Linked DNA regions of Homo sapiens. The protein of the gene in region 3 purifies or fractionates together with the protein of the main gene of each other region. This does not show direct contact. Each region holds a gene or a part of one and is shown on either strand. Other genes may lie near its edges. The genes, in order: RABGEF1, USP24, CPNE2 and NUP54.

Region 1 (8,736 bases), on a different chromosome or scaffold from region 3:
TCACTGCAATCTCCACCTCCCAGGTTCAAACAGTTCTCCTGCCTCAGCCTCCCAAGCAGCTGGGATTGCAGGCACGTGCCACCACCCCCAGCTAATTTTTGTATTTTTAGTAGAGACAGGGTTTCACCATGTTGGCCAGTCTGGTCTCGAACTCCCGACCTTAGGTGATCCACCTGCCTCGGCCTCCCAAAGTGCTGGGATCATAAGCGTGAGCCCCTGTGCCAGCCGTATTTCTCTATTTTACTAAATTAACACACGGATTATGATTTTTGTTCAATCAGTTATACTTCATTTATTGTCCTTATTTATAGATTTCTTCATTTTATTTTATTTATTTTTTAAGACGGAGTCTCACTTTGTTGCCCAGGCTGGAGTGGCACGATCTCAGCTCACTGCAACCTCCACTCCCCGGGTTCAAGCGATTCTCCTGACTCTGACTCCCAAGTAGCTGGGATTACAGGCGCACACTTCCACACCTGACTAATTTGGTATTCTTAGTAGAGACGGGGTTGTGCCACGTTGGTCAGGCTGGTCTCAAACTCCCAACCTTAGGTGATCTGCCTGCCTTGGTCTCCCAAAGTGCTGGGATTATAGGCCTGAGCCACCGTGCCTGGCCTTATTGTCCTTATTTATTTTGACATTCAAATTATCCCAGACTTGGCCAGTGGAAACCCCTCCAAGCTGGCTTCTGGATCTTCTGAAATGTCCCCAAAATATTGAAGGGGCCCTTTTTTCCCTACTCTAGCCCCAGAATCAGTCACTTCTCCAAGAAGCCCTGATTCACTTTAATGAATAATAGGTTTACTTTCTAAGGTCTGGGTGGTATTGGTATTTTAACTCTAAAAATGAAAAGATATGCTTTAGAGAATCACCGTCTTCAGATCCGTTCATGAAAGAGGTACACAAGATTCTACTTGGAATGACAACATTATAGGAGTTCTGAAAGAAAAGGGCACTTTGGAATGTATAAGCAAGTATCTCAGCTTGGTCAACCACTATGACTTCCTCTATACAGCTCACTCACCCTGACTGTAGAGACTAAAACACTTTAACTGAGTCTTTACAGTCAAGACATTCCATTTACTTTCTCTGAAGGCGTATCCAACTCTAAAAGAATGTGAAGATATTCTTCAAATTCCTTAGAAGGTTATTTGTATTTTGTCTGCTACCAAGCTGCTACGTATGGCATAAAAACTTTCCTTTATGCTACTAACAGAAGCAAGTAAAACACCAACAGCAAGGGTATCATGGACTAAGGAAGATTCAAGAATACAGAATCCAAAAAGTCTGTTTCTAGTCTAGACCTAATACATTAAAACGGCACTTAGGCTAATCTTATCCAAACACAATGGCCAAACAAAAGTAATCAGTGTGAAATGCAAAATTTACCTGGCTAAGTTATATTAAGTGATCTGTGAAACAAAGATACAATGGAATCTTCTTTTCTAACATGAATTTTTAAAATACTTTAAGGTCTTTATCCCCAAAGCTTTCTACAGACAAAAAGCAACTAAAGAACAAACAATCTAAAGTACAAATCTATCATTCAAAAAGATGGGGGATGAGGGGAGACAAGAACAAAGGTAAAAATCATTCTGCATACATATTTTTAAAACAAAATTCACCTGGATTCTTTATTAATTAATTAATTTTTTTAATGTTGGTGTCTCACTCTGCTGCCTAGGCTGGAGTGCAGTGGCACAATCAGAGCTCACTGCAGCCACTAACTCCTGGGCTCATGTAATCCTCCTACCTTAGTCTTCCAAGTAGCTGGGATTATAGGTAGGTAGAAGCCACTGCACCCAGCTCCAGAAATGTTTCTTTTTAAAGTACAGACTCTGCATTGAATTGTAAATTTTCTTTCAATAGTATAATGCACACTGTACAGAGGCTTTTGGGACACAGGTTTTTAAAACCACCAAGGAGAGTTAGCAAATATAAATGACAATTATGTACTTAAGTAACAGAAACTTAATTTCATATATATATATTATTTATGATATATATTAAATAACCTGGGCTTCTGAAGTATACACATTGGATAAAGGAATATAATGGAAAAATATTGACCCAGGAATTAGGAGACATGAGTTCTCATGCACAAACTCATTGTGCAACCTTGGGTAAATTAGTTAACCTTTATGGACTTTCACACTGTCCTCTGCAAAATGAGGCTATTGGAGCTGATAATTTTATACTTGTTTTACTATTTCATCTGTTATCATAAATACTTATCATTTCACTACATATCATCAAGAAACAGACCTTAAGCTAAATAGGAATGAGTATTCTTCATAGCAAATGCCCTTGTGCTCCCTGCAAGATAATTCTATCAGAAGAATAACTTGCATTTTAAAACAGCTAACACTTACTGGAGATCTACTGTGTGTGTCAGGCACTGTGCTAAGCTCTTTACATGCATTAACTCACTGAATCCTCATCACGTGCCTCTGGTAGGTATTATTGTCCCTCAGTGTGGACAGGACTCGGAGAGGTTAGTCTGTCCAAGGTCACAAAGCTGGTAAATACAAAGCTAGGGCTCAAACCAGGAGTGACTCCAAAGTCACCTTACTACCTGGCTATTCCACCTCCTAATAAATAAATCATGAGCCCAATACATTCTTATTTAATCTCTGGCAGGTACTAATTTTTCCCCCCTTTTTCGTAGAGATAAAATTGCTACAACTGGCAGCCAACCAAGAAACAACTTCAAATTAATCATGTAATCAATCTTTTTTCTTTTCTTTCCTTTTTTTAGACAGGGTCTTGCTCTGTCACCCAGGCTGGAGTGCAATGGCACGATTTCGGCTCACTGCAACCTCCTCCTCCTAGATTCAAATGATTCTCCTGCCTCAGCCTTCTGGCCTCAGCTGGAACTACAGGCACATGCCACTGTGCCTGGATGATTTTTCTATTTTTTGTAGAGGCGGGGTTTCACCATGTTGCCCAGACTGGTCTCAAACTCCTGAGCTCAGGTAATCCATCTGTCTTGGCCTCCCAAAGCGCTGAGATTACAGGCTTGAGCTACCGCACCAGGTCTGGTATCCATGTCTTAAAGAGAGGTGTGTTTTTGGTTATGAGCAATATTTCCTTTTAATAAAACAAAAGGAAACAGCAAAAGTCACAAAACCTAGAAGACCAGCAAGTATCTTAAGAAGTAACACTGTCTTATTATTCATTCCCCGGCCTTCAGGGGAGACCTCATTACAATTACCCCAGGGTAGGAACTGGGGAGCAAGTGAGGGGGCTCCCAGAGAACAGGTCTTCTGACAGCATCAGTGTTGGTTCCCAGTCTCCCTCATTATTTCGCTTTGACTGCATAACTCTGAGTACCAACATAAATTTTCAAAGACAGACTGAGGCCTAACAACAAAGAGTCTTTCTTGCTTCATGTTGGGCCACTTCAACTAGCTAGTCTGCTCAATGGTAGAACAACTGTGACTTAAGTGACAATCCTCTTGCTGGTTATATGGCATTTTAAAAAGCAGGGTGAATATGATCACCTACATACAAATCCATGCACTGGAAAATAGCTACTATGGCTCACTTTCATCCCCCCAAGAGCCCAACTTGGGCCTTTTCCTATATGTTCTCAATACACTTCCTCAAGACACAAGCTGTCTCTCAAATAAGCTCTCAGGCAGAAAATCTCTCTCTCAGATGACTATCAAGCCTAGAAATCACCATTTCTGACAAGCTATGAACAGTGAGGGTATTATACCACAGAACAAACCAGGATCCACAAATAAAGGCACAAAAACCAAAACATCCAAAGAGATAGTCATTTGGATGGGGATGAATTTCATAAGCAAAAGTACCTATTTCAATTCTCTTGATTCCTCCTATAAACAAATTTCTCTAAAACACAATGTCTTTCAACCAAAGAGAGTATTGATTTCATATACTGTCTGACCCTCAAGCCCAATTTCAGTGTCAAATCTGAGCTGATGTTCTCAAAAAGTTGACAGAAATTACAAAGCTGAGCTTATGAGCATTGGGGATCTCCTCTGTGTCTCACTCAGGCAGAGAAGAAAAAAAAGAGTATCAGAACATTACCCTTCTTTGATCCGACCCTGGAAGATGCACTGAAGAATTTCTTCACTGTGGTAACCTTGCGGGTCTTCTCGTTGGTTTTCTTTTCTTCAAACTTGGAGAATGTGAGGGATTGGGCCCCTTGGCTGCTCTGACTGCTGGCAAAGGCCTCTTCTTCCTCCCGCTGGAGTCTGCAATTCAAGAGAGGATTAGAATGACCTAGATATTCTCCAAGGTTTCTCTGTATGTGAAGGTTATTACTCCATTAATTCAGGAGGATCTAAAGATTTTAGACCTAGAGACTAAATATGCCAAATCAGTCTGAGGTCTCACATTGCTACAGGATGGACGGCTCTTCATGCACTACAGATTTCAAATGGGGTCTTCTCATACTCATTCAGCTACTGCTCTAGGGTTACATGAAAGAAATCAAGTCTAATCCTTTTCCCTAACAAGCTCAAGGCTGGAACAGACAAAAAGGTAAGTAAACAACTGCTACAGAATGGGACAGCTGCTACATCAGAGAGTAAAAGTTGAGTGCTGTGAGAACACAGGAAAGAACAACTCAATCTGCTGGGGGAGTCTGACGAGGCTTTACAACGGTGATGTTTGGGTGAGGTCTTAAAGGATAAATAGGATCCTTTTTTTGGTTGTTTTTGAGACAGAGTGTCACTCCATCGCCCAGGCTGGAGTGTAATAGCATGGTATCAGCTCACTACAACCTCTGCCTCCCGAGTTCAAGCAATTCTCATCCCTCAGCCTCCCAAGTTATTGGGACTACAGGCGCACACCACCACACCTGACTAATAAGGCTGAATAGGATTCTAAGTGAAAGGACATTCCAGAAAGAAGGAACTACAAATGTGCAAGCCTGTGGTTTGCTTCACAACAAGCTGAATGTAGCCAGAGCACTGGGCGTGTGATGAACTGTGATGCTGGATATACAGGAAGGCTCCAGAGGGTAGGGAATCTTGATTGCTGAGCCCACTATTCTGGATTTCATCATGTGGTAGGGAAGCAAGAAAGACTGTAAATCCAAGGAGTTATCGCTGTCAGATCTGTACTTTAGAAAGATCATGCAGGTAGCTGTGTGAACAACTTGAAGGGTAGAGAAACTAGAGACAGGAACAAGAAGTAAGAGTATATTATAAAGGTTTAAGTAAAAGAAAATAAGCACCTGGAAAATAGGAGTACAAAAGGTAAAATTCAAAAGACTTTTCTGAGTTGGAAGAAATAGAACTTGGTCAAGTTGTAGCTAGCATGGGAGATAAAAGAGAAATCAAGAATGAAACCAAGGTTTTTTAGCTAACTTGGTAAGTAGTGATGCCATTAATTGACTCAGGAGAAGGGTTAGGAGGAAAATGTTCAGAATGCGGAGAATAATAAATAAAAGCAATAAATTTGGCTTTGGATTAGCTGCATGTGAACCACCTGTATTAATTCCCAAACACAGGCCAGGTGCAGTGGCTCACGCCTGTAATCCCAGCACACTGGGAGGCCAAGGCGGCCGGATCACTTGAGCTCAGGAATTTGAGACCAGCCTGGGCAACATGGTGAAACCCTGTCTCTACATAAAATACAAAACTTAGCTGGGCATGGTGGCATACTTCTGTAGTCCTAGCTACTTGGGAGGCTGAAGCAGGAGGATCACTTGAGCCCAGGAAGCAGAGGTTGCAGTAAGTTGAAATTGCACCATTGCACTCCAGCCAGGGTAACAGAGCAAGACCCTGTCTCAAAAACAAACAAACAAACAAAAAGCACAAGCACTATCTAAAAGACAATGATTTTCCAAGTATGATTCCCCAGACAGCAGCGCAGCATCACCAGGCAACTTGTCAGAAATGCAAATTCTCTAGTCTTACTCCCAAGCCACTAAAATCAGAGACTCTGTGGGTAAGGTCCAGCAATCACTGCTTTTACAAGCTTTCCGAGAGATTTAGCAGGGTCACAATTAAAAGCAGTAAGAAATAGAAACAAAAATCACAGGTGGAGGTGCTAAGTCTGAGGGTGGAATCGGGACCCCTCTTTCTCTGGGACAGACAAGAAGTTAATATAAAGGTACTAGGACATTTTTATGTGGTGAGGGGAGGAAGCTGAGGGAGTTTGTGCCTAGTGGCCTCTACTCTGTTTTTGAAACAGGATCTGCTACTGACAGCATCAGGCATGCAGTGGAAACCCTGAGGAGATCATTCATGTTCTCGGCTAAAATTTTCTCTCTTTGATTGAACACAGTCACTGAAAGCAATGTGTAATTTCTAATTCTCTGAGTTCACTACAAATGACAGCAAAGGAGTCACTCAACAAATATTGGCTGACTGGATGAAAAAAAAAAAACAAACAACTAGCTAGAGGAGTTGGCAGAATTCCATTTGACTTTCTTCTGTTGAAGCAGTTTTAGAATTCTAGAATGCTCTGGCAAAGAATTAACATTATTCATGGCATTTTATTAGTTCCTATGCTCACTAGCCATCCCATCATTTATTTATTTATTTATTTATTTTTTTTTGAGACAGAGTCTCACTCTGTCTCCCAAGCTGGAGTGCAGTGGCATGATCTCAGCTCACTGCAACCTCCGATACCTGGGTTCAAGCAATTCTCCTGCCTCAGTCTCCCAAGTAGCTGGGATAACAAATGCGTACCACCATGCCCGGCTAACTTTTTTAATATTTTTAGTAGAGAGGGGGTTTCACCATGTTGGTCAGGCTGGTCTCGAACTCCTGACCTCAGATGATCCTCCTGCCTCACCCTCCCAAAGTGCTAGGATTACAGGCGTGAGCCACTGCGCCCGGCCCATCGTTTAATTTTTAACATCATTATATTTCCGGATAATACCAAATGCTAACCTAATTTTTAAATATAAGTTAAATTTCTACAATGCAATGACTATGTATACAAGTCAACAGATTTCTACTACTGTGTTTTATCACTGAGCTAGATGCCATGCTAAATATATATTAAAAGAATGAGGGAAATAATGCTTGATGAGTGCCATTTCCAAGCCCTGCAGTGGGTACGTCAAATTTATTAGCTCATTTAATCTTCACCAGGAAATATGCCTATCTCCATTCTTCCACTCCAAGGAGCTTATTGTCTACATTTGAGAACTAAAACTAACACAACCCAAAGAAAATAATCAGAAGACAAACACAAAATGAAGAAACTACTGAAAGCTGTTCATTAAAAGCTGACTGAGAAGAAGAGAGGAAAACATCCTTTTCCTTAATATTAAACTGACTTGCTGATAGCTCAAAGCAGAAGTGAAAAAATGTATTTAGACGGTGACAGAACTATGTATCCAGTCACGTCACTGTTCAACCGCCCCTAGTTAAGTCCTTTTACCGCTCCGCCAGCTCCCAGTCCTCCTGAATCTGCTTCTGCCTGGCTTTGTGGTACTCTTCCCTCCAGCACTTGGAGCAGAAACCCTGCCAGGCAGGGTTGCCGTAGTAACCACATCCTTTCTTGCACAGGAGATCCGATTGATCCACATGAATTCCTCGGCGTTCAGACTTAAGGCTCATCTTCTTCCTGCTAACCACTGAACAAACAAGAAAGTGCTGTTGAAAATGAATTATCATTCTACTAAATAAAATCTTACCAATTATGAACAAAAAGTGAGTGATTCCATTATCTTCAAGCTGTTAAGAGAGGGATGGAGGGAATGAAGGAGGGAGGGAGAAAGAGGAGGAAGGAAGAAAAAAGAATGTTAAATATAGTAAATTCCTGACACAGCCATATTAAAGAAAGACTTATTCCCTGCCCAAAATAAAAAATAAAAAATAAAAAATTAAGAAAGGACTCACATTAGATTAAAGACCTAAATGTAAAGGCTGCAAACTAGAAAACTCCTAGAAAAAAAACTTAGGGGAAAAGCTTCCCGACACTGGATTTTGCAATGACTTCTAGGATATGACACCAAAAGCACAGGCAACAAAAGCAAAATCAGACAAATACATTATATCAAACTTTAAAATGTCTGCACAGGCCGGTGTGGTGGCTCACACCTGTAATCCCAGCCCTTTGGGAGGCTGAGGAGGGCGGATAACAAAATCAGGAGATTGAGAGTATCCTGGCTAACACGGTGAAACCCTGTCTCTACTAAAAATACAAAAAAATTAGCCAGGCGTGGTGGCGGGCGCCTGTAGTCCCAGCTATTCAGGAGGCTGAGGCAGGAGAATCACGTGAACCTGGGAGGCAGAGCCTGCAGTGAGCCAAGATCACGCCACTGCACTCCAGGCTGGGTGACAGAGCAAGACTCTGTCTCAAAAGAAATAAAAAATTTTTAAAAATTAAATATCTGCAAAACACAGGAACCAACTGACAGGGTAAAAAGGAACAACACACAGAATGGGAGAACTTATCTGCAAACCATATATCTAATAAGGGGTTAATATCTAAAATACGAAGGAACTCCTACAACTCAATAACAACAACAACAACAACAACAACAAACCCAAATAATCCGATTAACAAATGGGAAAAGGACTTCAATAAACAATTCTCCAAAGACATACCAACAGCCAACAAATGTGAAAAATGCTCAACATCACTAATCATCAGGGAAATGCAAATCAAAATCACAATGAGATATCACTTTACACCCATTAGGATGGCTACTGTAAAAAAAAACAAACCCAGGCTGGGCATAATGGCTCATGCCTGTAATCCCAGCACTTTGGGAGGCCAAGGTGGGAGGATCACTTGAGG
Region 2 (6,506 bases), on a different chromosome or scaffold from region 3:
AATGAAACATCAACTGGAAAAACCTTTCAGCGAACCATTTCAGCTCAGGTGAGAGTTGTCTCTTGTTTTTGCGTGGTCTAAATCACTTATGGAGGATTTTCAGTGTGTTTCTCAGAAACTGCAACCTCTGAGAAGAGAGGTATGAGTTGAAGATGAGAACAAGCAGAAGAAACAATTGGATTTCTATGAAAAGAAAACAGATTGGTGTACACTTACACAAATTTGTGCAGATTATTTGTCTAGAAGGAAAGTCATACAGGTTGGGCAGTCTGGTCACAAAAAGGGACAGGGGTTGAGGGGGTTCTGGTGACTGTGATGAAGGCCTCACTCTCAGGCCTCCGGTCCCACTGAAGGTCAGATGAAAGGTAGTCTTCCCTGGCGGTTGCTGCTGCCACTGAATGGGCCCTAACTTTGTCGTCTTGTGTTTGAATCTTCTGCAGGACACGTTAGCGTATGCCACAGCTTTGTTGAATGAAAAAGAGCAATCAGGAAGCAGTAATGGGTCGGAGAGTAGTCCTGCCAATGAGAACGGAGACAGGCATCTACAGCAGGTATAACGGTCAGCATGTCCTTGTGTGCAAAGGGCAGCCTTGCTCTTAAGCTTTCCAAAAAGAATTTCCACAGCTGAGGGAAAACAAGATGCTTCCTCTGGAATGTGAGTCCAAAGAGTTACCAGCGCTGCCCTCTAGTGATCTCAGCTCAGCATATGCACTAACCGTGTGTTTACAGGGCTGAGTAGTGCTGCAGTGTGAAGTGAATGGAAGGCCTCGAGGTGTTTGTGGCTGGCCACCCTGATCAGCCTGCAGGTAGTCCCGATGAAGCCAGGGCACAGGGGGATTCGTTCCAGCTTGTTCACTTTATTCTGCCTTGCCAGGTTACTGAAAGTCCCTCGTTTGCTCTCACCAGCCTTCCTGGAAATGTGGACTCTTGAAAGAAAAGCTCCCGTGCTCTTGAAGTATACCTGCTTGCCAGGGGAGTCCAAGAAAATTTTGACATGTATTTTTAAAAAAAGAAAAAAAAACAGCTTTAATACCAATCATTATAGTAGAAAAAGAAAATAAATATGTATTGAACACCCACTGTGTGCAAACACTGAACTAAGTGTCAGTTAATCATTACGTCTTTCCAATAGTCTGTAACTTTCCTTAACAGCAGTCTCCTCTGTGGTCCCTTCACAGTACTTGGTACAGAATAGGCCCCATTAAATGAATGTTACTGATGTAGTAGGTGTCATTTTTTTTTAAGTGTTATCTTTCGGATCCTCATAAGCACTATGTGAGGCAGCTGTCACCCTGATTTTACAGAAAGGTAACTGCAGCCCAGCACAGTGATGTGACTTAGCCCAAGGTCACTCCACACATTACCTCATCACCTACTTCATTTGCAGAGAAAATAAAAGCTGTCACAGGAGAGCTCCTGCGGCCACTAATTCCCAAGCATCTGCACTGTTCTTGTCTCCTCTCCTGTGACAGTGGGAAGTTTGCCTCTGTCCACCCAAAGCCCCTAGCGCTCATCCCCGCCCACCTTGGCAGAGCTTTGCGTTCTAATGTGTATGTAACTCTTCAATATCCAGAACGCTCCACCCTGCCAGACCCTTCCCAGCGACGTCTCAGCACACTGGTTTCTCTTCTGCCCTGTCAAAGCCTCTCTTCTGCCCTGTCAAAGCCTCTCTTCTCCCTGTTGCCCCTGCCTTCTTTTCTCTTCTTTGCAGCCAAACTTCGACTAATTCTCTAAACTTAACTTTCCCCATTTTCTTATCTCTCACTCGCTCTTCAGCCTCTTCCCTGCTAACTCCCTCTTCTCTCCAACTCAGCAGTTGGGGTGACAGGTGGCCTGCAGCTTTCAGGCCTCATCTTAGCCGACTGCTCGGCAGCATCTAGCGCTCCTGGCGCTCTTCCCGTTTGAAACACTATTCCAGGGCTTTCCTGACACTTCTCTCTCGTAGTTTTCCTCAAACCCTTCTGGCTGTTCCTTCTCTGTCTCCTTCCTAGTACTGCCTCTTCTGGACCACCAGTAAAGGTTTGTGGAGTCTCTAACCTGTATCCTCCTGCCCTCACTCCATATTCTCTCCGCACCCACCTTGGATTTCTGAACATGAACATCCAGCTCTCTTGTTCTTGACGTTCTCCACTTGGCATACCTTAAAGACCTCAGACTCGATGTGCCCAGCCCCTCCTCCCTGCGCCCACCAAAGCTGGCCCTCCGTCAGTGTTCCTTATCTCACACACAGCACCCCCATGTCATCCCGGACAGCTCCCTTTGAAAGGGTGCTCGTCCCTCTCCTCCACCTGTCATCAGCCCCTCTCTGCCTACATCTGTAAGGATCCCCTCACCTCCACCCCTGCTTCTCTCTGGTTCATGCACTAAAACCTTTCAAAGGCTTTGTATGAGGAGAAAAGCCAGAATCCTCAACACAGTCCTGCTTGATCTAGCACCTGCGCACCTCCCCACCCCCATTTTCTGATTTTTTTTTTTTTTTTTTTTTTTTTTTTGAGATGGAGTGTTGCTCTGTCACCCAGGCTGGAGTGCAGTGGTGCAATCTCACCTCACTGCTACCTCCTTCTCCCAGGTTCCAGCGATTCTCCTTGCCTCAGCCTCCCAAGTAGCTGGGATTACAGGCATAAGCGACTGTGCCTGGCCCATTTTCTGAATTTTATTTATCAAATGTACTCTCTTCCTTCCACCTCAGGGCCCCCCTACTCACCCCCAACTCTCACTCAGCTTAGGTTGTCACTTTAGAGAGACTGTCCTTGCTCCTCCCCACCCCAGCTCCAACTAGATCAGCCCCATGGCACACGGTGAGTATTCAGAACGATTCGCCAAGTGTGTAAGCCAAAGGCCACACAGATGGTAACAGAGGTAGCCTTCAGACCCAGGAGTGACCCAGAGCCCATATTTGGCAGGTGCAGGGCAGGGAGGCTCACACAGTGCCCAACGTGAAGCGGGCACAATGGCCATCAATGCCTCTCCCAGCTTTATCACTGCTCTGCGTTCTCACATGGGTGCAGAGTAGCATTGTGACTTTAGACAAGTCGCTGGGTTGTTTCACTGACTAAATGAGATCATAGAAATGTACATGTTTTACATAATCATGAATTGTCAAATATTAGATGTAATAGTTATCACATTTTATTACCCTTTGATAAACATTGCATTAAGTTGCCAGATGAAGACATGTTTAAATTGCAGAACACAAGTCAGCATAGAAAACCTTTTCTCTAACCGTATGAACTTTAACTTCCTTTTCTTTTCTGCAGGGTTCAGAATCTCCCATGATGATTGGTGAGTTGAGAAGTGACCTTGATGATGTTGATCCCTAGAGGAACATGCCCAGCCTGAGAGGAGTCAAGACACAATACTGGATGCTCAGCACCTTCTTGGAATCAGAATCTCGAACCCTTTGGAAGAGCCTGGAGATTGGACTGGGAAAGCTGCTGTGACTTGGGCGGATCGTGTATTTCTCAAGGAAAGCATTTTTAAGCCACTAGAAGGTTTGGGAGCTGTTTGGCAGTGGGAGAACTCCGGCATGTGGATCAGCTGTCCCGGGAGCGTGGTCTATATGTGGATTCACATTTCTGTGGAGATTTTCGGAAATAGAGCCAGTGGCAGACTTTTTTGTTACACGAACATACAAGAGTGAGCATAAAGCTGTTGCTTTCTCTACGATGCTACAAAAGAAATTCCTTTGGTTTTTATATTTTAAGAAAAAGCAAGCTGCTTTTAGATATGTGGGGGCAAATTTTTAATCTTGCAGTAATATTAAACAGGAATATCCAATTTAAAATGATGTAAAGATGTAATAAAATTCCTTTTCATTGTAAAATAGTAATTAAGTCAATTTACACAGACCTTTGTATTTAATATGTCTCCCTATTTGTATAGAATTTCAGATGGGTCTAGATGAGAACCCTATGCATAAGCTTGGATCTTGATGAAAGGTTACCAGGATCAGGATCAAAAATTGGGAAATACTAAGCTCTTGAAGATATTTTTCTGATATAATTAGATTGAAAAGAGCAATTTTGAAAATGCTGTGTTCTCCAGAAGTACAGGGTGCATTATTTGACATCAATTACTTAAAGAAGTTATGAGTTGTTCCCCAAACAGATTTTAAAAACAGCAAAATAAAAGCACTTTAAGATATAATTTTACTGAGTTTAACTTCACAGAATTATCTTTTTAATGCTTGGAGACATATTGAATAAACTGTAGTCTTAAATCATGTGATCTGCAATCGTTTGCTTTTGCTTAAAACATAATTACTGAAACCCTTGGTATTGGTTGTATATGAAGTTAACTATTTGAGTTGGTACACACTGCTTGTGAGTTTCATAGTTATTGTAATGCAGAGAAGGAATTTGAGAATTTGTTTCTCCTCAACATGACTAATTAACACTGAAAAGTCAGTCAAGGTTTAAGATTTATTTTCCCAGAAATAAATATAAAGCAATTGAATAACCATCCATTTAGTCGTATTTCCAAAGTATAGCACCATTCACTCATTTATACCAGCTCCCTTTTATGGTGTGGGGGAGAGGTTTACACCCACATATTTCATATATATTTTGTACATTTTGTATTTTGAATTGCTCACATTTTCGGCCCTGTTTTGCCTTTAGTTACAGGTCCTGCCTTATTTTCATCTCACCATGCACAGAACTAGGGAGCCTTAGGAAGTGCCAGGTTTTCACTGTCAGATTTGCCAAGTCACAGAGGCGCAGCCAGCCCTGAAGTGCCTGTCTGGCTGCTGTGGCATTGTGTGGGCATGTGGCCAGGCAGATGGCATCTCATTACTGTGCTCTCGCCATGGCCCAGTCTTTTCATTCTCTGGCAGTGAGGGTTTCTGTGCTGTCAGACTTCATTGTTATTCTGTGACTTGCTGGAGGTTGGCAGTGGCCTTTGTCAAACACACTGAGAAGATGGAAGGGCCAGCACTTAAGAGCAGAACTGTACCCTTAGAGAAACGGACAGAGGCGAGTGGCAAACTTCAGACGGTTCCAATGGTCTTGCAGTTTGAAATGTGATGTTCTACCATTGGTTTTGAGTACGTGAATACTTCCTGTCCTACTGTTTCCCCTACCCTATTCTCACCTTCTCTCCGCCCACATCCTCACCAAGAGATTGTGTGGGACATGACCTTGAAATGCTGGCGATGATCCACACTGGGATATCATCGCTGGCGACTGCACTCTCAGGAGCCCAAAATCAGGAGTGAAATTGCCACTTCTAGTCCCCTTATTTCCTATGGAAACAACGCCTTCCGCACCCCTAGCACCTGCCGTCCTCACTGTAAAGCTTCATCAGGATCGTCCACCGTGTATATTATACGCTTCAGATCATGTTGCTTATATTGTTGCTGCAATGACCATCGTTTTCACTTTGCTGGTAACCACTTGATTGCTGACAGCTACAGTCAATGAACCTGCTGATGACTTTTTTTAATGTAGTACAACAGTGACAGTTATGACAGGCTTACCTTGGAAGAGTTGTCATTTTTACTGCCAATTTTTTGGATGAAGATGTTTTTATAAACCTTTCAAAATGGTCTGCAAACAGAGCAGGAATTGCACAATTAACTCAATAATGCTGTGTGTTCTCAAGAAGCTCCCTTAGTGAGGCCGATCTTAAGATGGCCGATTCTGCCCGTTGAAGGCATCCTGGGAAAGAAAACAAGCATCCCAGCGGGCATCTCACCACGACTTCTCCTGGAGTCCTCACACGGTCACTGACAACTACAGTCAGTTTTAGGAACTAGAGTGCCGTATCATCAGACTTACCCTGTCCTGCCCCACCTTCCCTGCTAACATCGAGGTGTGTGCAGTTACCTTCTGAGCTTGGAACAAGCAGACTGGAATTTTCCTCTGCTACCTCTTGTGTATAAAATCTTGTTTATAAAATTTCAAAAGGAAGTAGATACACTAGGGAAGAACCTTAATTCTAAATTTGGTTCATGTGTGGCAAAGTTCTTAGCTTCTAAGAGTATAAAATAAATTTTTCAAAAACAGAGTTGGAGTCTTGCCGCCATTCTTCATATATCAGAACACAGCCGTAGTGGGCGGGGGAACACGAGCCTGTGCCTGGTGCTAAATGCTGTTGATTCCTCTTAGTACTTTACACTAATAAAGGGGACTGTGGGTCCTCTGAGCCTGTTGCTGTTCTTTTCTCTGGAGGGGCTGACCATTTCAGGATTCATCTGCAAAGCTTAGAGGAGGATGCTGAACTTAGGTTGATGGTCTCCATTCATCTCCACCAAAGCTTTTGGCTCTCCCAAGTGGTCCCCAGCATAGATCGTGTCGCTGGTCACACTGGGCTTCTTGCTAGATCCCACAGGTCTCAGTCTCATTCCTAGTGGCCAGCGTTGCTCACATGGGTCCCCTTCCCTATTTGCTAGTCCAGATTTTCGCCTTCCTGCAAGCCACACCCCTTCCTCCCCGATCCCTGGTGACCACCTGCTAACCCTCTGCAAGAACCAAGTTGTTCCAACATCACAGAGCTGTCAGGGTGTG
Region 3 (7,266 bases):
AAGAATCGCCTGAACCTGGGAGGTGGAGGTTGCAGTGAGCTGAGATCACACCAGTGCACTCCGGCCTGTGTGACAGAGCAAGATCCTGTCTCAAAAAATAAATAAATAAAAAATAAAAAAAGGAAGAAAGAAAGAAATATTCCAGGGTATGGAACAGCAGTCTTCTTGACTCTGCCATGGGAGTGACAGCCGAGGTCCAGTGGCCCAATGAGGGCAGAAGACATTGGGATGTGAGCCAGGAGGCGCCTCTAACCTGGGCTCTGTCCTCAGGCACTGTGGGACCCCTATGTCCTCCCTTCTGGACAGGGAGGTGGGGAGATGTGTGATTGTGGACTTTTCTAGATGCTGCCTGCCAAGATCACAGGGTGACCTGGCATCCCAGCTCCCACAGAGCCCACACCACCGTGTCTGGCAGGGTTGGGGGAGATCCCACCTCCACTCCCTGAGGCCATATTCTGCAAGGGGGAAGGAGCTGGGTCCTCAAGGTGTTTTGCTCCTGATTCGGTAGCCCCAGTGCCATCTATGAATAAGGTTCAGGGGAGGGGAGAGGGACAGAGACCTCCATCAGGCTGGGGGCACCCTGACCCTGAGCTGAGGGCTTCTCAGATCGGGACCGTGCCTGGCGATGATGCCTCCTGCTCTGACAGGAGGGAGAAAATTACTAGAGAGTGCTCTTTTGTTTTCTGTTCACTCCTTAGAGCCCTGTGAGGCCAGCCAGATGTGGGGAAATGGGGACACCTGGATGAGACCTACCACTTCTCCTGGTCTTCTTTCACCCCAGGCCCCTGCCCCTAGAACAGCCCAGAAGTCCTGACGGGAGGGGGAGGAGCAAGCTGGCCTGAGACAACCCCACAAAGGATCCTGGATGCAGTCACCCACATCAGGCTTCTTAATATTCCCATGGATAATGACAATGACAGTTAACCAGGCACTCACCACGTACCAATAAGTGCTGGCACCCGAGTCCTTGCAATCTAATTTAATCCTACCTTTGCAGAAATACACAATTACCTGAAAAGAATATGAAGGTGTATAGATATAAAAACTGAGGACTGGGAGGAGGACCAGATGGGGTCCAGTACTTACTGTTTTACAGACATAGAAACCGAGGCTCCATTCTCAGCCATCTTCTTCCCTTATGCCCCAGTTTTTAATTCTCATGACATTCCAGAGGGAGTGTCCGTTGGAACACCACCAGAGACACCACACTTGCCACTCATGAAGTGCTCCCTACTTGCAGAACGTCTGCTCCCTGTTCCCCAGTTCCAGCCTCCCAGCCGCCCTACTGTAAGCTGGATCATGTCACAGTTTGCCTCATTTTACAGACAGAAAACCCCCCAAGTCCAAGGGGTGACAAGGCACGCAGACAGGAAGTGACGGCCGCAAAACGAACCCAAGCGTCCACATCCTTCGTCCCTGGTTCTTTCCATGGAGAAACCTGCCTGGGTGACCCCTTCCAATCCAGCTGGCTGGGGCGGTCCTGGAGCTCACCTGGACCTATGCCAGGCGGAATGCCATAAAACCACGCCTTCATGCTGTGTCCATTCTCCAGGAGGCAGGCCCCGGAACATCAGCCCATTTCACAGATGGTGACCCAGAGGGCCACAGGGGGGGAGGGTCTGGGCCAAGTTCCCTGTTGGTCATAGGTGGGGTTCAGACCCAGGTCTCCCAGGCCTCCCCATCAGGGCAGGCTGCAGCTGCCAGGGATTACAATCTGCGCACACCGCCTGTTTCCTGAAAACCATGGGCTCCCTGCAGTCCGTGAAGCTGTGGATGCCCAAGGGGCAGAAAAAGCCCCCCAACCTTTGATGACAGCACACACCTCTAAGGGAGCAAAAAACTAAGGCAGACAAAAAAAAGGGCGTTTTGTCTGGAAGATCATTCTTCCAGACCCCTTGTCCCTTCCCCCAGTACATATGGGGCAGGGGATTCAGATGCAAGATGAACACCCTATTAGCTACCAGAGCCAGCAGCATCTGTGACCTTGGGCAAATCACAGCCCCCTTTGAAGCAGCCCCTTCCCCATAGGAGAGCTTCTTGAACTCGGGGGGACGTGGAGCGAGGCTGGGGGATGGGGTGGGAAGAGCAGGGAAGAGGGTGTAAGACCCCTCTATTTTCAGAGGAGCATCGCTGTGAGAAACGGGGAATAAGAGAGGGCCTTGTTCGCCCGCTCTCTCCATGCCCACCCCCACACCCCCTTTAAACACACAGGTGCCAGACAGCTTTTTCGCAAAAACTAGTTTGCAAACACACTCCGACTTCTGGGAAGCTGCCCAGCTCCACTCCCCCTCTGCGCTCCCAGTACCGGGGCTGGGAGCCGGCCCTCCGGCAGTTGCCTGGGGCAGGGGGTGGGTGTTGAGGGGTGGGAGGAGGGCAGAGGGGAGCGGAGAGGAGCCAGCGCCCGCCGAGAGCCAGGGCGACCTCACGCCTTCAGCAGCTGCGGCAGCGGCGGGTCTCCACCTCCCGTACGCCCTCCAAGCCCCTCGGGGCGGGTGGAAGGGTCCCCAAAGCAGCTGGGCTCGGACCCCCGAGGGCGCCCCCCTCCCCAGGGACCCCGCCCGCCCTTCCCCGCAGTCCGGGAGCCGGCGGGGCGCCCCCGCGTGGCCGGGTCGGAGCTGAGTCACCGAAGCGCCGGAGTCCGGGTTCGCGCTGGCGGCGGGGGCTAGAGCGCCGCAGCCCCCCGAGGCGGAACCCGGGTTCCTTCGGACCCGCAGCTGGATCAAAGAGCCCAGCCCCAAGGCCGAAGTTGGGCACTCACGCCAAGCTGCCCCGCCTGCCCGGGCCCCACTCACCGCAGGTCCCGCGGGCGCCACCGCCCTCACCGCACGGCTGCCGCTGCCCGCGCTCCGAGCCGCCCGGGCATCCCCGGGAGCTGCTCCTGCTCGGCCGGGCCCGCGGGCGCGGGACAGGCTCAGGGCGCTGCCCGCGCGGCCACGGCCCGCTCGCGTGCGCTCCCAGCCGCTCGGGGTCCGGTCCTCCTCCCGGGCCGGGCGGGCGGGCGGCGGCGGCGGCGGCGGCTCGGGCTCCTCCCTCCGGCCGAGGAGGGGAGTGGGGAGGGAAGTGGGAGGCGAGGCGGGAGCTTCCTGGAGGGGCGCGCGCTCTCCCACGGGAGGAGCGGGGGCGCTGTCCCGCCCGCAGTCCGCCGCTCCCAGCCCGCGCCCGGCGCGCCGCGGCACTCGGGGCGCCTGGCACCGAGGGGGCCCGAACGTTCGGGCCGAACGCGAGGGTCCGAAGGTTCCAGGCTGGGACTCAGGTGGCTGAGGATCGGAACAACGCGGCTTCGCGCCCTCCCCAGGCCTGCTTTGCCCGAGCCTCTGGCACCTCCGAGTTCCGAGCGCCGTGCGCTCAGGGCCACCGACGCGGGAACAGAGGGGTGGCCTCAGCCCGGGCCTGCGGGGCCCCAGGGCCGCTTGGACCCCCAGCGCCGATGGGAGCGGCGCTGCGCCCTCGGGGCAACACCCAAGGCTGGGTTCTGGGTTGTATTGGGCAGGATTAGGGCCGCAGTGTTTTCTTCCCTTTTTTTTTTCAATAGCAAAAGAGCTCGGCATTTTCTTGCCGCCAGAGATTGGAAATATGACATATTTCTCTGACACAGACGATAAGATAAAGACGGATCCGAACTGGGCCTGGGTCTACTCATCCGTGCGGAAAATTAGGCGAGTCTTTAAGGCCTTGGAGCCCAGGCCTCCTTTTCCCTAGAAGAGGCACCAATTCTTAGGACACTTGTCTGTCGCTGGGCGCTCAAGCCTTTGGCCACTCCGCGGTATTTAGGTGCTCTCTGGGCAAGTTCACCACCGGGCATCAGAAGGCTGAGCCTCACGTAACCAGATTCTGGGGGGCGGGGCTTTCCCGGGGATCTCAAGGCCATGTCCACAGCCCTTGGCCCTGGGGCTCAAGGACTGGGCAGCTGAGGGTTAATGCCGAGTGCTTCCATTGTGGCTTTTCGATTCCAGGCAGGTGAGGGTTAATGTGGGAGCCTCGCGCGCTGCAGCCTGTGAGCCTCCCTCCACGTCTGAGTCACTGGCACTTTGCAGCCTTACAGGGGCCGAGACTAAACAGCCCCCGGGGCTCTGAGCTTTGTTCTCTGCCTGCCTGTCACCCATCCATCTTTCCTTTCTCCAAGCTCTCTTCACCTTTCTTCCACCGAAGCCAATCAAAGCCCTCTGCCCCGCTCTGGGGCAAACCAACCTATCAACCCAACTCCAGCCCCGCTTCCTCCAGGAAGACTTTCCTGATTGCTCTGGCCTCAGAATCTGTCTCTTGTCTTTCCAGCAGCAGGAGAGCCAGGCACTGGGATGGACAGTGGTGAACCAAAGCAGATAGTCTCTCTCAAGTTGCTCACCTGTGGGGGCCAAGATCAGGACCCAGGCCATCATATCACCATATGAAATGTGCAAAGATTGGAGGTAGGGTGGCACAGAAGACCCAACTCAGCCATGGGAGTCAGCGAGGCTTCCTTTAAGAAACCTGAAGGATGAGATAGTTGGGCCTGTCAAGGAAGATACTAGATCCCTAGCCAAGGAGGCAGAGTACAAAGGCCAGGGGTCACAGCAATTCCACTCCTAGATATCTACCCGGGAGAAATGAAAACATATGGCCACACAAAACATACACAAATGTACGTAGCAGCATTATTCATAATAGCCAAAAAGTGGAAACCACGCAAATGTTCATCCACTGATGAATGGAAAAACAAAATGTGGTATATCCACACAACATAGAATATTATACAGCCATAGAAAGGTACGAATTACTGGCCAGTTGTGGTGGCTCACACCTGTAATCCCAGCACTTTGGGAGGCCAAGGCGGGCGATTACTTGAGGTCGGGAATTCAAGACCAGCTTGGCCAACATGGCAAAACTCTGTCTCTACTAAAAATATAACAATTAGCCAGGCGTAGTGGCAAGAACCTGTAATCCCAGCAATTCGGAAGGCAGGAAGGAGAATCACTTGAGCCCAAGAGGCGGAAGTTGCAGCCAAGATTGCGCCACTGTACTCCAGCCTGGGTGACAGAGGGAGATTCCATCCCCCCTCCAAAAAAAAAAAGAAAGGAAAAAAAGAAAGGTGGGAAGTACTGATACATGCTACAGTATGGACAAACTTGGAAAATATTATGCCCAGTGAAAGAAGCCAGTCTCAGACAAATATTACATGGCTCCATTTAGATGAAATGTCCAGAATAGACAAATCCACAAACAGACAAAGCAGATTTGTGGTTGCCTCGGCCGGGGAGTGGAGAATGGGGAGTGATTGCTATTGGCAAAGGGTTTCTTTGGGAGATGATAAAAAATGTTCTAAAGTTAGATTCTAGGCAGAGTGCGGTCCTGCCTGTAATCCCAGCACTTTGGGAGGCCGAGGCAGACAGATTACTTGAGGCAAGGAGTTCAAGACCAGCCTGAGCAACATAGTGAGACCCCACCATCTCTACCAAAAAAAAAAAAAAAATTAGCCGGGTGTGGTACCTGCCTGTAGTCCCAGTTAGGAGGCTGAGGTGGGAGGATTGCTTAGGAGGTTGAGGCTGTGGTGAGCCATGATCACACCACTGCACTCCGGCCGGGGTGACAGAACAAGACCCTGTATGAAAAAAAAAAAAAGTTAGATTATAGTGATGATTGCACAACTGTAGGTATTCTTAAAACCACTGACTTACACACTTTAAAAGGACAAATGTCATGGTGTATGGATTATATCCCCATAAAGCTATCTTTAAAAAAAAGGCCAGGGATCAGGAGAGCCCTGAAGAAGTTGATTAAGGCCAAGGATCCATCACAGGTTGATTCTACATGCTTTATCCTCATTCCACACCCAACACAAGACTGCAAAATGTTAAACGAAGTCTTTCCCTGCCCAGGTGGAGACCTCTCAGTGCACAGTGGGAGGCCTGAAGGCCCCGAAATAGACCCATGTCAGGGTATGTGTGTCAACACCTGCCATCTGGGTGTTTATTTTCACAGTCCAGGCTGTTTGGACAAACGGATCAGAATACCCAGGTTTGCCCATGCATGTCAGTGTGCTCGTGAATGAAAGACACATTGAAGGAGCGCCAGCTGTTCAGGGATCTGGCTGGGCCAGGAGTGTGTGAGGACTGGCGGAGGGAGGGTGTTCCAGTTATTTATGTTGCATCGCAGATCACCCCAAAACTTATCCCTCACACTTCCGGGGTCCTCAGGGCTCATCGAGGGCAGGTGTTGCACAGTGTTTCCCATACAGTTGCAGTCAGATCATGGTGGTGGCTGAAATTGTCTAGAAGGCTTTCTTGAACATATGGCTATCACTGGACGCTGGCTGTCATCTGGAACCTCAGCTGGAATTGTCAGCTGGAACACCTACCTGAGACCATTCCTTGTAGCCTGGGCTTCCTAGTGGCATGGCATAGGGTTCCATGAGTGAGCATTTCAAGAGAGGCAAGTGGAAGCGTTATCATCTGTTTCAGGCCCTTGCCTTGGGAGTCACATAATGTCACTTCTGTTGTAGTCACAGAGGGGTGTCACCGTCACATAATAGGAAGAGCATGTGGGACGGAAGATACTGTGATGGCTGTCTTTAGAAAATACCATGTGCCACAGGGGGTTGATATGGAAACATATCAGGATCCTTGAGGGATCCCCTCAAGGATCTCCTGGTTAGAGGCAGGTGTGGCTGACTCCATTGTCAAACCTCAGGCATGGAGTCATGGCCATGAGTTTGAATCCCAGCCGCTCAGCGGCTGCCTAGGTGAAATCACTCAATCCTCTGGCCCTTGCTCTCCTTCTCTGTAAAATAGGATAGACTTAGTATTTGCTTTATGGGATGGTTGTGAGAATCCAATGAGACAGAATTCAGTGAGACCGTAACGTGCCAGGCAAGTGTAGACAGCAGGGCTAGTGTATAATTGCTATTTTTTTGTTGTTGTTGAGACGGAGTCTCGCTCTGTCGCTCAGGCTGTAGTGCAGTGGCACGATCTCGGCTCACTGCAAGTTCTGCCTCCCGGGTTCACGCCATTCTCCTGCCTCAGCCTCCCGAGTAGCTGGGACTACAGGTGCCCGCCACCACACCCGGCTAATTTTTTGTATTTTTAGTAGAGACAGGGTTTCACCGTGTTGGCCAGGATGGTCTCGATCTCCTGACCTCATGATCCACCTGCCTCGGCCTCCCAAAGTGCTAGGATTACAGGCATGAGCCACCACACCCGGCCATATAATTGCTATTTTTTAAGTTCCAGGGTTGTGGTCACTCTGATGCAGGGACGGTCCCTTTCTAGGATCAGGATACCCAGACTTCTCCAG
Region 4 (4,970 bases), on a different chromosome or scaffold from region 3:
TTATATATGCAGTCACCAGTGGGACAGAAACCCAACAGGATGACTGGGCCTGCCTTTTTAAAAGGCTGACCTTAGGCCCTGTCTGGTATATTTATCTGGTTGAACTAGCAACCAGCAATATTAGAACATGAAAAATCAAAGGCTAGAGAAGCGACCATGGTATGCATGATGAGTGATCCATCCACTAGATTATATAGCTCAGTGAGTAACAATTCTCATCAATTAGACCAACAACTCTTCCTACTATAAGGGGGTGTGCAGAGGGACAAAAACTCCTATACTTGGCTACATGGGTAAGAATGATGGACATGCAGATCTTCTGGGCCACGGAGAAAATGTGGACAAGGCAAGAAATTCCTGTCCCAACACTGTTGGTATTGCAATATAATGGGTAGGAAAGAATGATGAGAGGGTAGTAGAGTAGTGTAACAAATTTACACACCATAAACTTGGCAAAAGTAGCTGCATACTTCTGGCAGTCAATTTGGAAAGAAACAATCAGTTTTAAAGTTCCTAGTCTTGGCCAGGCATGGAGGTTCAGGCCTGTAATCCTAGCACTTTGGCAGGCCAAGGTAGGAGGATTGCTGGAGTCTAGGAGTTCAAGACCAGCCTGGGCAACATAACAAGACCCCATCTCTACACAAAATAAAAAATAATAGCCAGTTGTGGTGGTGCATGCCTGTAGTCCCAGCTACTCAAGAGTCTGAGGTGGGAGGACTGCTTAAACCCAGGAGGTCAAGGCTGCAGTGAGTCGTGATTGTGCCACTGTACCCCAGCCTGGGTGACAGAGAGACTTGTCTCAAAAAAAAAAAAAAAAAAAAAAACCCACAAAAAATCCTAGTCTACACAACTGTAACCTATACAACTGAGGAGAAATCTCTTCAGTGGATTCTCAGAGGATGGACTCCAGATAGATATACAGTGCATCACACTCTTCACCATCCCCATAGTAAATACAATAGCAAGATTCATGGGCCTGTTTCTTCTAACACCTGTCAATACAAGCCAAAGCATCACAGAGAAGTGCAAAGTTAAAGCATCTCAAAAGCGGCCAACATGATGCAGCCCAAATATAGTGTAGTCAGAAATACTGTTTAAAATGATCCACTGGTTAAAGACCCACTATTTAACACTACTTAATCTGTTTAACTCAGATTTTCTAGTATTTCGAATACTAATGACATATTAGGGAATTCTTAATACTAGATGATATCTGAAGTAAGTTTTACTTGCCATACCCTAATCAAAATATAACAGCACTGACAAAAATCCCTAGGAGGCAAAAATAAGACTTAAGACTAAAATTCCTGACTTGTGATTATGAATTTAGTACCTATGTGGACAAAAAATGGTCATTCCTCAAAAGCCAAATAAAGCACCAGACAGAATTATATAAAAGTAATTACAAATTAAGAATTTATTTATAAGTTTTCATCTTTTTAGAAATAAAAAGGCTTAAAAAACAAAATGGTTGCAAAAATGGTTAAGTAGTTTTGTTATATCCTAATTGCTTAGGTGTGCTCTGTAAATTCCAAATAAGTAAAATAATATAAAAATACATTTTCATATCTTTATAGAACAAAAACAAAACATTAAATGCTTTTGGATTTTCTTTACTCCTCCCACAGATGAGTTCACAAATACAAAAACTGGTGTACATTTATACTCAAGTACAAATCTCCAACAGCCAAGTAATTATAGTTTGTTCTGTTATGTGCAAAGTAGATTATTTCATATTTACTTGGTATGGAAAGCAGAGTACAGGCTCAATGGACAATAATCATTAAACACAGATTATGTTTAAGAAAATGCTGTTGTAAAAATGTACAATAGTACATACAATTTTGGTAATTATGCACTTCTTTTAAAGTAAATACAGCTTTTAGATATAAATCTTTCAAAGGTTTTCTTTGAAGAGCTGTGAGGTGACTATTTCAGATTTGATGAACAGTAATTTGTCAGTAAACTTCTCAAAAAACCAATCCAAGAAAGAATTGTTTTCTTTTTCCCTCCATGTGGTCGGTTTCATTCTTAAGGAAGGTCTGATGCAGTAAGAAGATGCATTTCACAAACCTTTACACAAGTTTGTGAACTGTCAACTAAAGACACCACCTCTGATGTGGATGGTTTCATTCAATCCATGTTCGACCAGCTTTATATCTTCTAGATCGTCTTTAATGATGCTAATCAAATGGCTAAGGCCTTCCTGTTGTTGTTTCAAATGCTAGAACAAATTAAGAAACAACATATTAATGTATTAATTTCTTAAAACTGCAAGCTAGTCACAGGAAAAAAGACTCCACTTTGACTATTTTACTAGCAACACAGTACCTAGTAAGTGCTCTAAATATAGAGGGCATGCATATTTAAACATTTGTACTACATCTTTTGCTAACAGTGAAAGACAAACTCTAAAGAACAATAAAATCAAACAAATATATAATGAACAATATCTTCCAACAAAAATGTTTTTTAGATAGCTATTCCTTTTACCAACTTTTGATAAAGGCATGATAATAAAACAGAACTCAAAGGAGGTATTCAAATATAGATGACTAGCAAAATAACATTCTGAAAACTGAGAATATTCATGTTTTGAAGTACAAAGTACATAGTGATAATGGTGGTGATGACTACAGATGCTAACATTTTTTTAAGACTCCTCCTCATGGGTTAAGGTGCTGTTTTAACAGTACTGGTATTCACTCACTTAACTCATTTAAAATCCTTTTGAGCCCCCTTTGGGGTACCATTATCATCTCGACAGTTAAAGAAACTACAGGTAAATAACCTGCCCAAGGTCATAAAGTAGATGGTGAACCATGATTCAATCCCAAAACAATACACTGCTCATAATTTTAAAAAAGACAGGTGTTTAAATTATTCCCAGTTTTATTGCATATATCAACTCTATTTAATACAACTATTTATTTCAATATACTGGAACCTGTTAATTTATTGCAAATACTTAAAACAATGGAATATAATTGGTTATGTGTGTAATATCCAAGAACCTGGAAGCCAAAGTAGTTTTTGGTTGCATAAAACCAGCCATATCCATTCTAACATAATAAAATTGGATTTGTTGATGACATTTATAATCTTTATCTAAAATCCTCAGGGCCATGCCAACAGTCATTAGCTACCTAGTATGTTCCACAAAGTTCATCATCTTCATATATTTTCTTTAGATACAACTGTTCATTTTCATTAAACCAATCTGCATTTATACTAATGAAAATAAGCCAAAGCAGTGTTTCCCAACTTTTTCACACAATGTGAAAACCCTAGAAAAGTGGTTGGAGGTTCTGGCCACCTCAACCTACCTCCATCCAGATCTCCTGAGAGCTTAGGGGACAGATCAATAACCAAATGTTTATAACTTACATGCGACATATAGGCAGGGAAGGTATTATCTAGAGCAGTTGCTTCTCAAACTTTAAAGTGCATACAAATCATTCTATGATCTTGATAAAATGCAGATTGAGTACGTCTGGAGTAAGGACTGAAATTTTGCATTTCTAATGACCTTCCAGGTGCGGCTACTACCTACACTTTAAGGAGCAAGGTCTAGGAAACTTTAGTGTCTCTACTACCTCTAAATTCATCTTTTTGGCGAGGAGAGGGATAATTCACTTTTTTAAACAGTGGCAAAACAGGCATACCATAAAATTTTGCCTGTAACTATTTTTAAGTATACAGTTCAGTGGCATTAGGTACATTTATGCTGTTGTGCAATAATCAACACTATCCACTTTGTTTAGAACTTTTCATCTTCTCAAGTTGAAATTCTGTACCAGTTAAGTTCCTCCCATCCCCTCCTCCCCTCACACCCTGGCAACCACCTTTCTACTCTCTATTAATTGGACTACTAGGTACTTTTCATAAGTGAAATCATAAATATTTCCCTTTTATGAGTGGCTTATTTCATGAAGCATAACTTCTTCAAGGTCAAATTGCATTGTAGCATGTGTCAGAATTTCATTCTTTTTTCAAGGCTGAATAATATTCCATTGTGTGTCTATATACTACATTTTGTTTCTCTATTCTTTGATTGATTCTTGGGTTATCTCCACATTTTGACTATTGTGAATAAAGATGCTATGAACATGGGTGTACAAATATGTTTTGAGTCCCTGCTTCCAACGTACTTGGGTATATATCCAGAAGTAGACCTGCTAGATCATATCGTAATTCTATCTTTAATTTTTTGAGTAAACACTACACTGTTTTCCATAGAGGCTGAACCATTTTACATTCCCCCAACAGTGCAAGAAAGTTCCAATTTCTCCACATTCTCACTAACACTTTTCTTATTAGGATAATAGCCATCCTAATAGGTGTGAAGTGGTGAGCTCACACTTTAAATAATGCAGCCTCATGCAACACTTACCTGCTTGATTTCTCGTAACAGATCTGCATCTATGTAATACCTTTCTTCAGATCTGACTGCTCCAAAATGATTCTGCATCCTGATTTGAGACATCAATTCATTTAGTCGGCCCTAAAAGTTAAGACTGAGTCAAATTACAACTGCCGACGAAGACTTGTAAAAGACAATGTTTTCTTCTGAAAGGATGGTTTCAAAACCATCTATTAAAAATTTCTATTTCTCTCTCTGTACATTATATTCGAAACACTAATACTAGCCAAAAGAACCATGACTGAGTTTACTTTAGAAAGGAAGTTCTAATTGGAGATAAGAAACACAAGTATACAAAATTCCTGCTTGAAGATTACATAACTTTTTGTCTGCAGATCCACCTGAAACAAATTTTAGAATTATGGTCTTAGAAGTGGTTACCTTGAACTGAGTAGGTGCATTTAGTTCACCCTGAATCGTATCCAGCTGAACTCGCAACTGCTCTTCATCAGCCTGAATGGCATAACCACTCTTCCTTTGAATTTCCTGTTTGATTAGGACCTATACAAATAAAAACCACCAATAACAACAGAATCATCTCTTTTTA

Evidence for each region.
Region 1: the proteins of CPNE2 (region 3) and RABGEF1 purify together in Homo sapiens (co-immunoprecipitation; 3 studies listed by BioGRID and IntAct, with this or other methods). This does not show direct contact.
Region 2: the proteins of CPNE2 (region 3) and USP24 purify together in Homo sapiens (co-immunoprecipitation; 3 studies listed by BioGRID and IntAct, with this or other methods). This does not show direct contact.
Region 4: the proteins of CPNE2 (region 3) and NUP54 purify together in Homo sapiens (co-immunoprecipitation; 3 studies listed by BioGRID and IntAct, with this or other methods). This does not show direct contact.

The regions. Positions count from the first base shown.
Region 1 is NC_000007.14:66,770,714-66,779,449, reverse strand, and holds part of RABGEF1 (rab5 GDP/GTP exchange factor), read right to left. Parts: intron 7,568-8,736; coding exon of another isoform or gene 7,551-7,567; coding exon 7,372-7,550; intron 5,760-7,371; coding exon of another isoform or gene 5,623-5,759; intron 4,224-5,622; coding exon 4,057-4,223; intron 1-4,056. UniProt on the Homo sapiens protein: Rab effector protein acting as linker between gamma-adaptin, RAB4A or RAB5A. Involved in endocytic membrane fusion and membrane trafficking of recycling endosomes. Stimulates nucleotide exchange on RAB5A. Can act as a ubiquitin ligase.
Region 2 is NC_000001.11:55,065,859-55,072,364, reverse strand, and holds the end of USP24 (ubiquitin carboxyl-terminal hydrolase 24), read left to right. Parts: coding exon 1-48; intron 49-440; coding exon 441-551; exon of another isoform or gene 552-806; intron 807-906; exon of another isoform or gene 907-967; intron 968-3,257; coding exon 3,258-3,320; 3' UTR 3,321-6,006; downstream 6,007-6,506. UniProt on the Homo sapiens protein: Ubiquitin-specific protease that regulates cell survival in various contexts through modulating the protein stability of some of its substrates including DDB2, MCL1 or TP53.
Region 3 is NC_000016.10:57,088,317-57,095,582, reverse strand, and holds the start of CPNE2 (copine-2), read right to left. Parts: upstream 3,001-7,266; 5' UTR 2,793-3,000; intron 1-2,792.
Region 4 is NC_000004.12:76,113,271-76,118,240, forward strand, and holds the end of NUP54 (nucleoporin p54), read right to left. Parts: intron 4,925-4,970; coding exon 4,805-4,924; intron 4,505-4,804; coding exon 4,394-4,504; intron 2,225-4,393; coding exon 2,096-2,224; 3' UTR 1,394-2,095; downstream 1-1,393. UniProt on the Homo sapiens protein: Component of the nuclear pore complex, a complex required for the trafficking across the nuclear membrane.